2 linked regions of the Homo sapiens genome follow. The protein of the gene in region 1 purifies or fractionates together with the protein of each later gene. This does not show direct contact. Each region holds a gene or a part of one and is shown on either strand. Other genes may lie near its edges.

What was found.
Region 2: the proteins of MOB1B (region 1) and LRCH2 purify together in Homo sapiens (affinity purification with mass spectrometry; 3 studies listed by BioGRID and IntAct, with this or other methods). This does not show direct contact.

Annotation. Positions count from the first base shown.
Region 1 is NC_000004.12:70,982,349-70,988,740, forward strand, and holds the end of MOB1B (MOB kinase activator 1B), read left to right. Parts: 3' UTR 1-5,820; downstream 5,821-6,392. UniProt on the Homo sapiens protein: Activator of LATS1/2 in the Hippo signaling pathway which plays a pivotal role in organ size control and tumor suppression by restricting proliferation and promoting apoptosis.
Region 2 is NC_000023.11:115,112,085-115,119,176, forward strand, and holds part of LRCH2 (leucine-rich repeat and calponin homology domain-containing protein 2), read right to left. Parts: intron 1,252-7,092; coding exon 1,132-1,251; 3' UTR 1-1,131. UniProt on the Homo sapiens protein: May play a role in the organization of the cytoskeleton.

The sequences.
Region 1 (6,392 bases):
CTTGTTGATTGAACTGCCGATGGATTGGTTTCTGTGTGGTATAAATTGTGGCCCATTTATGAAGTCCCCAAAAGAGTTATGTTTTTAAGTGCCTTGGCAGGCTCACTTCTGAGGTGCAAAACATAGATATAGAACTGAACAGGGCTTGAAACAATATTAGGATTACTACCCAGGGCACTTACTGGTGCATGTTGTAACATATCTATGATAAAAGCCATAGTTTACCTAAAATGGTGATTTCCAGCCTTTACTGCTTTGAAGAAACAGAATTTGTAAAGGTATGCATGTAGAACATAAAAAATATTTCTTAATTATTTTTTATATTGATGGTAATATATTACGTTCAACAATGCTTAAAGCTCTACAAGCAGGTCTTTTCCCACCTCTTGATATCTGTGATACTGAAACTTGAGGATGTTGAAATGTATTACATTTTGGCTTCTTTCTACATGTTAACTGCACTGTAGATGTAAAAATTCAGGTTATATATAGGATTGCCATCTTCAGAGGTGATGCTGAACTGTGAGGTTTCCTAGTAATTGCCAAATGAGCCGTAAGTCTGCAGAATTCCCTTCTACTTTGAAGAGAAGGGGATAGGAATGTATATTTGGCTGGGGGCATGGAGATGTTCGTATGTATGAGGAGTTAGGGATGGGGAGTCAAGTTCTAGAAAGTTTTGTCTGAAAACCTTTGAATAGAATGGCATGAAGATTTTAATCAATTACTTATAAACAAAGTCTTAGAGACTTCCTTTTAGGAATCAACTTCCATGAGAAGTTAAAAATAAATTATTAATTTTAGGTACAGACATTAAACATGGAATTTAAGGACTGTTGGGGGAAATTGATCACTTCTTAGCATTTCCATTCAGTGAATGGAGCTGATGTTTGCCTGTCATTTTAAGATGATACCATACCTTCTTTGGTTATTATAGGTCCAGTTTGAAGCATTCTGACTTCTGGTTTTTCCACCCTGAAAGGAAATGTTTTTCTTTGCAGCAGTATTAGATAATGAAAAATGCTAATTCAGTAGTTATTAACTTCTAAATTTTATTCGCCATGACTTTCTAGTGAATTATTACCATAAATAACAATTTCAGAAACTTAGTTTTTAGAATAAATATTAATTTTTCCACTTCAGTTTTATTCTAGAAAATACCCTTTTTAGAAATCCAGTTTTAGTTTTGTCATTTTCGATAAATCTTTCTTCAGTTAGAAATATATATCCTTCCTTCAGTTGAAACATATACCTTTTTCACATCTAGGAAGAAATGCTTGCTCTGAAATAGTATAGATTAAAAACACTCAGTAGAAAAGAATCTAAAATTAAATGAATTTGTTTTGCCATTAAAGTAGAGCAGTGATACAATTTAATGCCATTACAATTATGTTGACTAGAAACTGCCTTTTTCTCCACTTCATTTCTAGCAATTATTTACCAAGTACCAACAGTAGAAGTAACAGGAAAGCCTGGCAGAGTTAAATATCTTGGACATTTATTGGTAAAGCTTATTTATAAACTGCAGTCAGAGCTAGTTAATTTCCTTAAATCTTTTTGTATTCAGATAGATAATATGAATCATTATGGGTTGATTCAGAAATAAAATTTGTGAGGTGATTTTGAATCTTGTCCATATAGGAAAATGAAGCACAGAATTACTCAGTCTTCCATATTGTATTTGACTTCATATCAATCTAGTAAAAAAGGAGTTGCAATAGCCAAGTATAGAGAGAATAGTGAAAAATTAATCTTGCCCTTTCAAGCCTTATACAGTAGTACACTGTACTTGTTTTTAGTAGTAAGACCTACTTTCCCACTATATGTAGATAGTTTGTTTTCACTGTGCCAGAATCTCAGGTGCCTGCTTAGAGTATTTCTTTAATCACAGTCACTGGGAAGTAAGGAGATGTATATATGTGTATATATGGTAACAAAGCATAGCAGTTCTCTAGGGGAGAGGCCTGGCATTGCACATGGTGTTACATGGCTACAAGTAAGGAAAAAATCAGAAAGTGAAAGAACTGATGTAATAAAAGGTTGATTTGGTTGGTTCCCATGAAAGTTAGTAAGATGCCCTTTTAAATATAAGGATCAGTGCTTTGTTCTGCAGCAGAGTTTGCTGATAAATGTCTGTTGGATTCTTTTTGGATTTCTTTAATTAATTTGTAAGTAACCAAGATAATTATTTTCCCCCTTGCTCTCTATATTAATACGTAGCTATAAAGCAACAGTTGGTTTTCTTATCCTTTGATAAAAGCATCCCATAAAATATAAAGTAGTAAGTTAACATAGTATTATTGTCACACACAATGCTTTTTTTGGTTAAATGTTGATACGAAGCAATGTTTTGGAATTACTTTAATTGATGGAGTAGTGGTGGTAGAGAGAAATTAATAACAAAAAGAGTGAAAATATTTTAATTAGCAGTAGATGGTGCTACTGGCTTTCATTTGCTGACTTGATTATTCCCTTTCTCTTAAAAACCATGGCATTAGACTGCACTAAATTAACAAGCATGTTAGTTGCTGGTAGAGGTTTTGGAGGTTAATTTACCTTAAATTGGAAGACTTTTAATTGCAGTCTCTTTCTACCTTCCCTCTGTTAGTCATTTGTAAATTCTAAATGGTCACCATAAAATGTATTAGGTAGGAGAAGATACGTTTTATGTATAATATATCTCAGACTGAGTTACTGCCTGTCTTATCAGGATGGATAAAACACTACAGTCTCTTATCAGGAAATAGAGATGATGTGGATATTTATATATTACATATATAACCACCAGACTCCATTTTATATATTAGCATTTTCCTTGCTTATGGGAAAATAGCAAAACAACATTTCATTTATACTTTTGTTTACCCCTCTCTGAGACAGGTTTTGATAACCACTGAAATGGTAGAATATGTGAGATACAAATATTGAGTTGTAGAACTTTCTTTTTAAGGTGAATAAGTCATGCCTTAACATCCAAATAAGAGTTCATCTTCAGAGTGGTTCTTTTGGGAGCACTGTTTATTCCAGCTATACTGCAAAAGTATAATGTTTTTGGAACTGTTCTAGAGCATACCATGAAAAGCAGTTTGTTATTATGCAGGAAAATCAGTTTCATCATTTTAGTTACACTAAACACTTTTGGCAGCTTAATATGACCTTTTTAAATTTTTTTTATTTTTTTTATTTTTATTTCTTTAAGATGGAGTCTTGCTCTGTTGCCCGGGCTGGAGTACAATGGCATGATCTCAGCTCACTGCAACCTCCACCTCCTGGGTTCAAGCATTTCTCCTGCCTCAGCCTCCCAAGTAGCTGGGATTACAGGCAGCACCACACCTGGCTAATTTTCATATTTTTAGTAGAGATGGGGTTTCAACATATTGGCCAGGCTGGTCTCAAACTCCTGACCTCAAGTGATCCGCCCTCCCCAGCCTCCCAAAGTGCTGGGATTACAGGTGTGAGCCACCACAGCCAGCCAGTATGACCTATCTTAATCATCAGCTCAACTGTAATTTAAATTTGGCTGTTCTCTGGAGCTAAACCATTAGGGAAGTTCAAAGGAATGTGCCATGATTTCCGAATTTGCACAAGAGAATGTTTTAAGCATTGGTAGCATAATTGAATAAAAGAATAGTTTCCTGATGTCACTATTTTGAAGTGGAAATTATCACTTGGATGTGGAGGTTTTACTTTTTAAAAACATTCAGCTTAATTACCTTACCTTAATTACCTTAGTTAGATATACTAATGGAAAAAAACCAAGTCCTTTCTCTAGAACTTGTTTTCTATTTTTGTTCCTTTTCATGAAAACTTCTCAATTTAATTTTAACTACTGTAGGATAGTATTGATTGAATGGATACTATGGAAAAGTGGATCCAATATTTAAGATAGAAGTAGTTTAAGGAGACAACAGCCTTTACTGCCATTTTTTTTTAAATGTTTTCACTCAGATGAACAATTTGACTTTAATAAAAGACTGGAGATTTTTGTACAAAGAAATAGGAATAAGTTTCATATACTAATTATGCTGAGTTTTAAGCCTACATATCACAAAATATTTAGAATTGTATAACCTTTTCATATATTTATAACTTTTAATGTCTTTTTAAAAGATGTGGGACCAAAAATATATTTATAATTTGGAAATGTGACTGCATACCAATAAGAAAACTTACCTTATTTTGAAATTTATCTGGGATATTAAAGAATCTACCAATTCTTAAAAACACAGATTTATACTTTAAGCTTATTTTAAAATTAAAGAATATATACCAATTCTTAGAAACACTTTAAGGACTACTCTTAAATAACTTAAATATCAGAGTTTTGTTGTAATATTAAAATTTACCGTGGAAATCACTGTTGTTCAGCTATCACCTTAATTGTGTATGATATGATAAATGTTTAGCAGTAAAGCTATCTTAAGATTTAATGGAAAAGTTTAATTTGAAGATGTAACAAAAATTCTGACCACAGTTGATTCTGAATTTTTAAGGCTTTCCTAATAGGCTGATCACAGAGAATAATCCATTTTGAAGGTATAAAACTGCACTGTATGTCTGTCACTTGTAGCTGAACTGATTCACATTTTGACAAAAGAGAGAAAATACAAAAATGAGTTTTGCAAATGTAATAACTTTTTCTGCATATAGAACTAAATAATTGAAAAATATGGGCTATAGTTCTCAAAGGTAGATAGTAAAATCACTGGCTTTTTCCAGCTGTATGTTTTTCCACTGTGCGTGTACACACACACTGGAAAATAATTAGGCTGATTTTGCAGGTCTTCATTGTTAGAGATTCTGAAGTATTTACTGTCAATTCATAGGTTTCAGTTTATTTAGGAAATTAGTGTTTGACAGCTTTTTTTAAATTATTTCACTGAAGCTGAGATTATTAGTGATACAAAGTTAAAATTTCAATATTTAATTTCTCTATATATTATTAATATTAAATTGTTTTTTACTTATAAATTCATGTTCTCATCTGATTTAATATTAAATTTGTATAGGTGGGCGTTTCTTACCATTTTGCACAAGTTTTTGTTTTTCTGAAATACTTAATTGTGCAGGTTGTAAAAAAGATTAGTGCATTTTCATTTTAAGGATGCTTTGCTCCTTAAATTGTTCGACAGAAATGACTTTTTAGGGAAAGTAGTTTTTTTGGAGCTACTAACTTGTATTTATTATTGTACATGCATAACCAGGGTGGTGAGGGCACTAATCTTGTAGGAAACACTTACTTGATGTTTTATTTGAACTTTTCCTATAGGTTTAACTTTTACTGCATAGAATTAACACTAGGAACAGTGTCATGAAATCTGGGTTGAAGGAGAATACAGTATATATGAGAACACTTAAAGTTCAAATAGAAATCATTTCTGAAGACAAAAGCAGAGGAATATTGTCAGTGCCAAGTAATGGAAGAATAAGGGCGGCATTTACACTGTGCAAGTATTGAGAAGAGTGCATAAAGACAGGGAACTACTCTCATGGAGACAGTTTCTCTCTTATAATCAAGTAACTAGAAGGGGAAAAATCATCTAAGTTATGAAATCCAACATAGGCGCTATATTACAAACTGTGCCGGATTATGCAAATTGTAGTTGTTACTGATCAAAGTTTAATTGCTTCATTTTTGTTTAAAAAGGGATACTGATGTCAGAAAATCTGTAATATGTTTTATTCAAAAGATGTAAATAATGTATACAGACTTGTATGTGATGGGATGGGAAATATTTAAATTCTAGGTGTTTTTTTTTTTTTAAAGAAGAAACTCAATGTTTATAAGAAAAAAATGAATAAATAGTTACGTTTGGCCATGAATCCTGACTTTGCATTACTGTTTATTTTTGCTATAGGCATTCCCACACTAAACACATTCCAAGGGAAATATTGATGGCATATGGAATATGTTGAACATTTAAAATTTGTTAGGCACTATTTTCTGTAATGTTCACAACAACCAGTGTCTTAACATCTTAGAAAACTAAAGCTCAGAAATTGTACAAGTCACTGATTTGGATTACGGTTTTAAAACCCTACTGTGTCTGAACTTGAAACCAGTGTTTCTGTTTTACTTTTTTCACTTTTTTCTTTATTCTGCAGTATGCAGGTGTATGTTTTCTATAATATATACTATTACAGTGAGAACAGTTAGCACAGTAATAATCATTTGTTGACCTCTTCACCAAGCTATTATTTAATATTTTGTCTTCATTACAGATCATTAAGGAATATTAATAATATTGGAGAATCATTTACCAAGTTCCAAAAGGAAATGTGTATTTTATTTTATTTTATTTATGAGACGGAGTCTTGCTCTGTTGCCCAGGCTGGAGTGCAATGGCACGACCTCAGCTCACTGCAACTTCCACCTCCTGGGTTCAAGTGATTCT
Region 2 (7,092 bases), on another chromosome or scaffold:
GTTTAATTTAACATCAAAGTAATTGAAGATCACAAGGTTTACAGGATTCACAAATGGCCAGATTTTGAGTAAAAACCTATTCCTCAACTGCTGCTCTCTGAGTATAGCTAAAGGCAGCACTGATAGAATGCTGCTCAAAGGGAAGATATAAACCCAAACTTTGGCAGTTTTATCAAAATGTCCTTGATAATTAGTACTTCACTAGTTCTCAAAAACTTTACTGCTTTGTGTAACATTTTCAATACAGAAATAAAATACTCTTCAAATAATACATTTTAAAAGATGATTAAGTTTCACAAAATTAAATAGCATAAATTAATCATATTAACATTGGTATTTTTGACAACATGAAATAACCAATTTAAGGGAAACTGCAATGGACTAACTAAAAAACCACAAATGTCACAATGTGAGGCTCATTTAAATCCTCACATATTACTGACTTTACAAAATCTACTAAAATATTTTAAAGTTCCATTGACTCTATTAATACATTTAAAAAATTGCAAAAATGCTTAAGACTATGTAAGAGTCATCAATTACACAGGCACTTCACATGTAAACAATCTACAGTACAACTGAAAATATTTTGGCACCAACCTATAATACTAAAAGAATTTAATATAAAGCCAGAATTGTTTTTTCTACTCCTTTTTTCTAGAAAACTAAGACCAAAGATTGAAGAAATTGTGTATAAACTAGAATTAGAAGTGTATTAAATAACTCAAATATAGAATTGCTCTAAATTGCTAAAAAAAATTACCTTTATCCAGATGTTTACTAATATGCTATGATGTAAAAAAATTAAACCTAATGTGATTATTAAATTGAAACTACATTTTAAATTTAGTATCAGTCTGCTTTCTGAAAAATAATCAAGATTATCAACTGACTTAGTAAAAAGAGAATTTGAGTTTATCAAATACTCTTATTAAGTTAATCCAGTTTTCCCCCAAAGAAGTTCGGGCAATTCAATGTTTAAGTTTGATGTTTCAATGTAATTTTTTTAAAATCCTAAGGCGTGACCTAAGGCAAACTATTTTTGACGGAATATTCTTATTCATGAATTTGAAATATTTGAAATCACTTCAAATAAATGAAACTATACACTTAGAATTTTAAAATGTTATATTAAGCCACAGAAAGCTGAGATGCCTTGGTTGTTGGTAATTCAAGGAGCGCCTGAACTGTGACACCAACTTTCACAAGTCCTCGTTCTTCCAAAATATGATGAGGCAAACAAAGTCTTTCCTGGAGAAAAAAAAGAGATATTTGAACATTCATTTTTTAGAAGTGTAATAAAATTAAGTCAGAATTTGATTTTAAAAACATGATTTCTATAAAATGTCAAGAAAACTACATAATTCTAAGTTTTCTCTTATAAATATTGTAATCTAAAATGTTTTTAGATTCTTAATTTATACTAAGAAAAAAGATTATAGAAGTCGGCCTTGTTTGAAATGCTGTCATTCCACACTTGTACCTCTTTCTCTACAAAGAAAATGTTTATAAAAGAGTTGGTCACCACTTTTGGATTTCCCACTCACTACTCAACCACTGCTATCTTACATCTAACCCTAAAGCATATGCCCACTAAAACTATTTTAGTAAAAATCACCAATGCCATCTTAAATGTCAAATGTTGCACATGTCTAGTTGACTGCTCAGTCATATTATGCCTTTGATTAATGCCTTTCTGGGAACCTTACTCCTCCCCTGTCTTGTGTGACACCATTCTTTTCTACTTCAACTTTTCTGACAGCAATTGTGCAGTAGCTTTCATTAATTAGCCCTCACCGATCCTCTTCCAACATTCCAAATGTTTCCAAGGGTTCTGTCTTCACTCTCTTCTCTTTTACACTATACCCTCTCTTTTGGTATTCTCATCTATTTCTAGTTTTAACTACCCCTTCCATACCGATGGCTTCCAAGTTTTTATTTCCTCCCAAGATCTCTCTATTGATCTCCAAATACAATATCAACTGGACACAGCCAAATGGACATCTAACAGACATATCAAAATCAATGTGTCCACAACAGAACTACTTTACCAAATTAATTTGCCCTTCTGCGATCCATGTCTTAGTAATACACTATTCAATCTCCATTGACAAACCTGTGAAATATAATAGTCTTCCTCTTTCTTCCTTACTCCCATAACCCATTCTCCAAATACTAATGATGGTATCCCATAAAGAGTTCTCAAAATTATTGCCTCATCTCCATCTTCACTGCTATATTTGTTGCCCTCTTAATATTTTGCTTATTTATTCAAATAACCACTGAAGTGTATGCTAGAAAAGAAGGAAGGCTTCAAATCAATGACTTCAGCTTCCACCCTAGAAACTAAAAAAAGAAGAGCAAATTAAACCAATGGCAAAAGAATGGTGCAAATAATGAGAATGAGAGAGGAAAACAATAAAGTAAAAAAACAAAAAACAATAGATAAAAAAAATCAATGCAACCCAAAGTTAGTTCATTTAGAAGATTTTTAAAAATTCATAAACCTCAAGCTAGGCTAATCAGGAAGGAAAGAGAGAATACACAAATTACCAATATCATAAATAAGGGAAGTGACACCACAAGATATTCTACAAATACCAAAATGATAATAAGGAGACATTATAAATAACTTCATAATAATAGTTTGACAAGTTAGATGAAATGGATGAATTCTTTGAAAGAATAATTAAATGATTCTGTAAAGAGAAACTCCTAAGGCACAGAAACACACACAAAAAAACTATTATAGAACTAATAAATGAGTTCTGCAAGGTTGCAGAATACAAGATCAATAAAAGAAAATCACTTCTATTTCTATGAAGTAGCAATAAAAAATTGACAGTGGAATTAAAGAAATAATTATATTTATAATAGTACCAAAGAGAATAAAATACTAAGCATTTAATTTAACAAATCTAATGAAAGACTCATACACTGAAAACTACAAAACACTGTTGGAATAAAAATTAAAAGATATAAATAAATGGAAAGATGTCTCATGTTAATGGATCACAGGAATAAACATTGTGAAGATGACAATATTCCCCAAATCATTTTAGATTCGGTAATCCCAGCAAAATCCCAAGTGGCTTTTTTGCAGAAATTGACAAGCTAATCAATCCTAAAATTGATATGGAAATGCAAGGGACTCAGTATAGCCAAAACAACCTTGATACAGAACAAATGTGGAAGACTCACACTTCTTGATTTCAAAATGCATCACAAAATTACAGTAAGCAAGACAGTGTGATACTGGAATAAGGAATTTAGTGGTAAAAAAAACTGAGAATCCAGAAATAAAGCCTTATATTTATGGTCACCTGATTTTTGACAAAGGTGCTAAGACAGACAATTCAATGGGGAAAAGAAGAGTCTTATCAACAAATGGTGCTGGGAAAATTGGATATCCACATGTGAAAGAATGAATTTGGATCCGTACCTCATACCATGCACAAAACTGATCTCAAAATGGATCACAGACAAAAAGGTAAGCCCTAAAACTATAAAACTTTTAGAAGAAAACACAGGTGTAAATCTTTGTGACCCTGAATTACACAATGTTTTCTTAGATATGATATCAAAATCATAAGCAGCAGAAGAAAAAATGGGATAAACTACACTTCATCAAATTAGTAACTTTTGTGCTGTAAATGATACCATCAAGAAAGTGAAAAGACAACCTGCAGAATGGGAGAAAATATTTGCAAATCATGTATCTCTTAGGCAATTTGTATCCAGAATACATAAGGAACTACAACTCAAAAAAAAAAGATAAATAATCTAACTCAGAAATGAACACAGGGTTTCAATAGACATTACTCCAAAGAACATATACAAATCAATAAGCACAAGAAAAGATGCTCAACATCATTAACTACTAGGGAAACGCAAATCAAAACCGCAATAAGATATCACATCACATACACACTAAAATAGCTACAACCAAAAAGGTAGACAGTAGTAGCCATTGTTGGTGATGATGTGAAGAAATTAGAACCCTCATATATTGCTGGTGGAAATGTAAAAATAGTGCAGCCACTTTGCAACATATTTTGTCAGTTTCTTAAAAAATATAAACATAGAGTTACCATATAACCTAACAATTTCACTGCTAGGTATAACCAAGAGAACTGAAAACAAGTGTTCAAAGAAAAACTTATTCACGGATGTTCAAAGCAACATTATTCATAATAAACAATGAGTGATAACAATCCAAATGTCTATCAACTGATGAATGGATAAACAACATGTGGTATGTATTTAGAACAGAACACTATTCAGCCATAAAAAGAAATGAAGTACTGATTTAGGCTACAAATGGATGAACCTTGGAAAAATTATACTAAGTCAAAGAAGCCAGACACTAAAGACCACATATTGTATGATTTCATTATATGTCATGTCTAGAGTAGGCAAATCCATAGAAAGAACAGAGGAAGGACTGCGAATGGGCAAGGGCTGTGTTTCTGGGGTGACGAAAATATTTTAAACAGATTGTTGTTAACTGTTGCTGAACTCTGTGATTATGCTAAAAACCATTTAATTGTACACTTTAAATCAGTGAATGCTATGGCATTGTAATTATATCTCAATAAAAATATTTTCTTAAAAAAATCAATGTATATGCCCAATCTCAGGCTTAAAAAAAGAGAACTTCAATCCATACTTTTTAACCACATACAAAAACTAACTCAAAATTGATCATAGACATGAACACAAAACCTAAGATTATAAAATTTCCAGAAGTAAACATAGGAAAGAAATCTTTGTGGCCTTGGATTATACGAAGATTTCCTAGGTTTGACACAAAAAGCACAGCCCATTTTAAAAAATAAATTGTACTTCAATAAGTGAAGATCCTGCTCCTTGAAAGACACTCTAAGGACAATGAAAGGACAAGCCAAAGATTTGGATGCAATATTTATAAATCTGGTAAATGTCTTTATCCATAACTTGTAAAGAAATCTGAAATTCAATCATAGGAAAATAAACAACCCAATACAAAATATACCTCAGATTAGAATATGTACTTCAAAAAAGAAAGTATACTTCAAAGTACTTCAAAAAGAAGATATACAGGTGGCAAATAAGCCTTGAAAAGATGATCGGCATCATTAGTCTTTAGGAAAATGCAAATTAAAACTGCACTGGCAAGTCAGTACATACATATCACAATGACTAAAATTTTTAGAAGATTGATCATACTGAATGTTAGTGAGGATGTGGAGGAACTGGAACTCTCACATACTGCTGACAGGAATGTAAAACAGTACAACCACTTTGGAAGAGTTATGTAGTTTCTTAAAATGTTAAGTATGCACTTCCATATGTTCCAGTTATTCCACTGCTAGGTATTTACTAAAAATTAAAGAATGTATAAATCCATACAAAGACTTGTATACAAATGTTCATAGCAGCTTTATTTGTAGCAGCCGCTAAAACTGGAAACAACCCAAATGTCCATCAGCAGGTCAAGGGATTAACAAACTGTGGTATATCCATACAATAAAATACTATCCAGAAATGAACAGCAATGGTCTATTCATACATGCAACAACACTGACGAGTCATAAAATAATTATGCTGAGTGAAAGAAGATAGAAAAATATAATACATATTGTATCATTCCATTTATATAAAACTCTAGAAAGTGCAAACTAATCTGCAATGACAGAAAGCAGATTAGTGGTTGCTGGAGAAAGAAGGATTGCAAAGACACATGAGGAAATTTTGGGGGGCAGTAGATATGTTCATTATTTTGACTGTGGTGATGATTTCATGGTGTATGCATATGTCAAAATTGATCAAATTGTACACTTTATTTATATGCCCTATATTGTATGTTAATAACTCAATAAGGCTGTTAAAAATTGGAAAACATCCTAAAACAAAGAAAATTAATTTAAAAATTATTATATATTACCAATTCTGAGTTCAGAGAAAAGCAATGAAGCTAAAAATAAAACCCTTAAAACAAAAATGACATAATATTAGTGAGGTAGTGAATGCTTGTAATCCCAGTTATTTGTGAAATGGAAGTCTAGAGCTCAGGAGTTCCAGTCCAGCCTGGGCAACACAGTCAGACTCCATCTCTAAAAAAAGGGTTTTTTTTAACCCTTCAAAAAATTAATGAATCCAGGAGCTGGTTTTTTGAAAGGATCAACAAAATTGATAAACCGCTAGCAAGACTAATAAAGAAAAAAAGAGAGAAGAATCAAATAGACACAATAAAAAATGATAAAGGGGACATCACCACTGATCCCACAGAAAAACGAACTACCACCAGAGAATACTACAAACACCTCTACGCAAATAAACTAGAAAATCTAGAAGAAATGGATAAATTCCTCTACACATACACCCTCCCAAGACTAAACCAGGAAGAAGTTGAATCTCTGAATAGACCAATAACAGGATCTGAAATTGTGGCAATAATCAATAGCTTACCAACCAAAAAGAGTCCAGGACCAGATGGATTCACAGCTGAATTCTACCAGAGGTACAAGGAGGAACTGGTACCATTCCTTCTGAAATTATTCCAATCAATAGAAAAAGAGGGAATCCTCCCTAACTCATTTGATGAGGCCAGCATCATCCTGATACCAAAGCCGAGCAGAGACACAACCAAAAAAGAGAATTTCAGACCAATATCCTTGATGAACATTGATGCAAAAATCCTCAATAAAATACTGGCAAACTGAATCCAGCAGCACATCAAAAAGCTTATCCACCATGATCAAGTGGGCTTCATCCCTGGGATGCAAGGCTGGTTCAATATACGCAAATCAATAAATGTAATCCAGCATATAAACAGAACCAAAGACAAAAACCACATGATTATCGCAATAGATGCAGAAAAGAACTTTGACAAAATTCAACAACCCTTCATGCTAAAAACTCTCAATAAATTAGGTATTGATGGGACGTATCTCAAAATAATAAGAGCTATCTATGACAAACCCACAGCCAATATTATAATGAATGGGCAAAAACTGGAAGCATTCCCTTTGAAAACTGGCACAAGACAGGGATGCCCTCTGTCACCACTCCTATTCAACATAGTGTTGGAAGTTCTGGCCAGGGCAATTA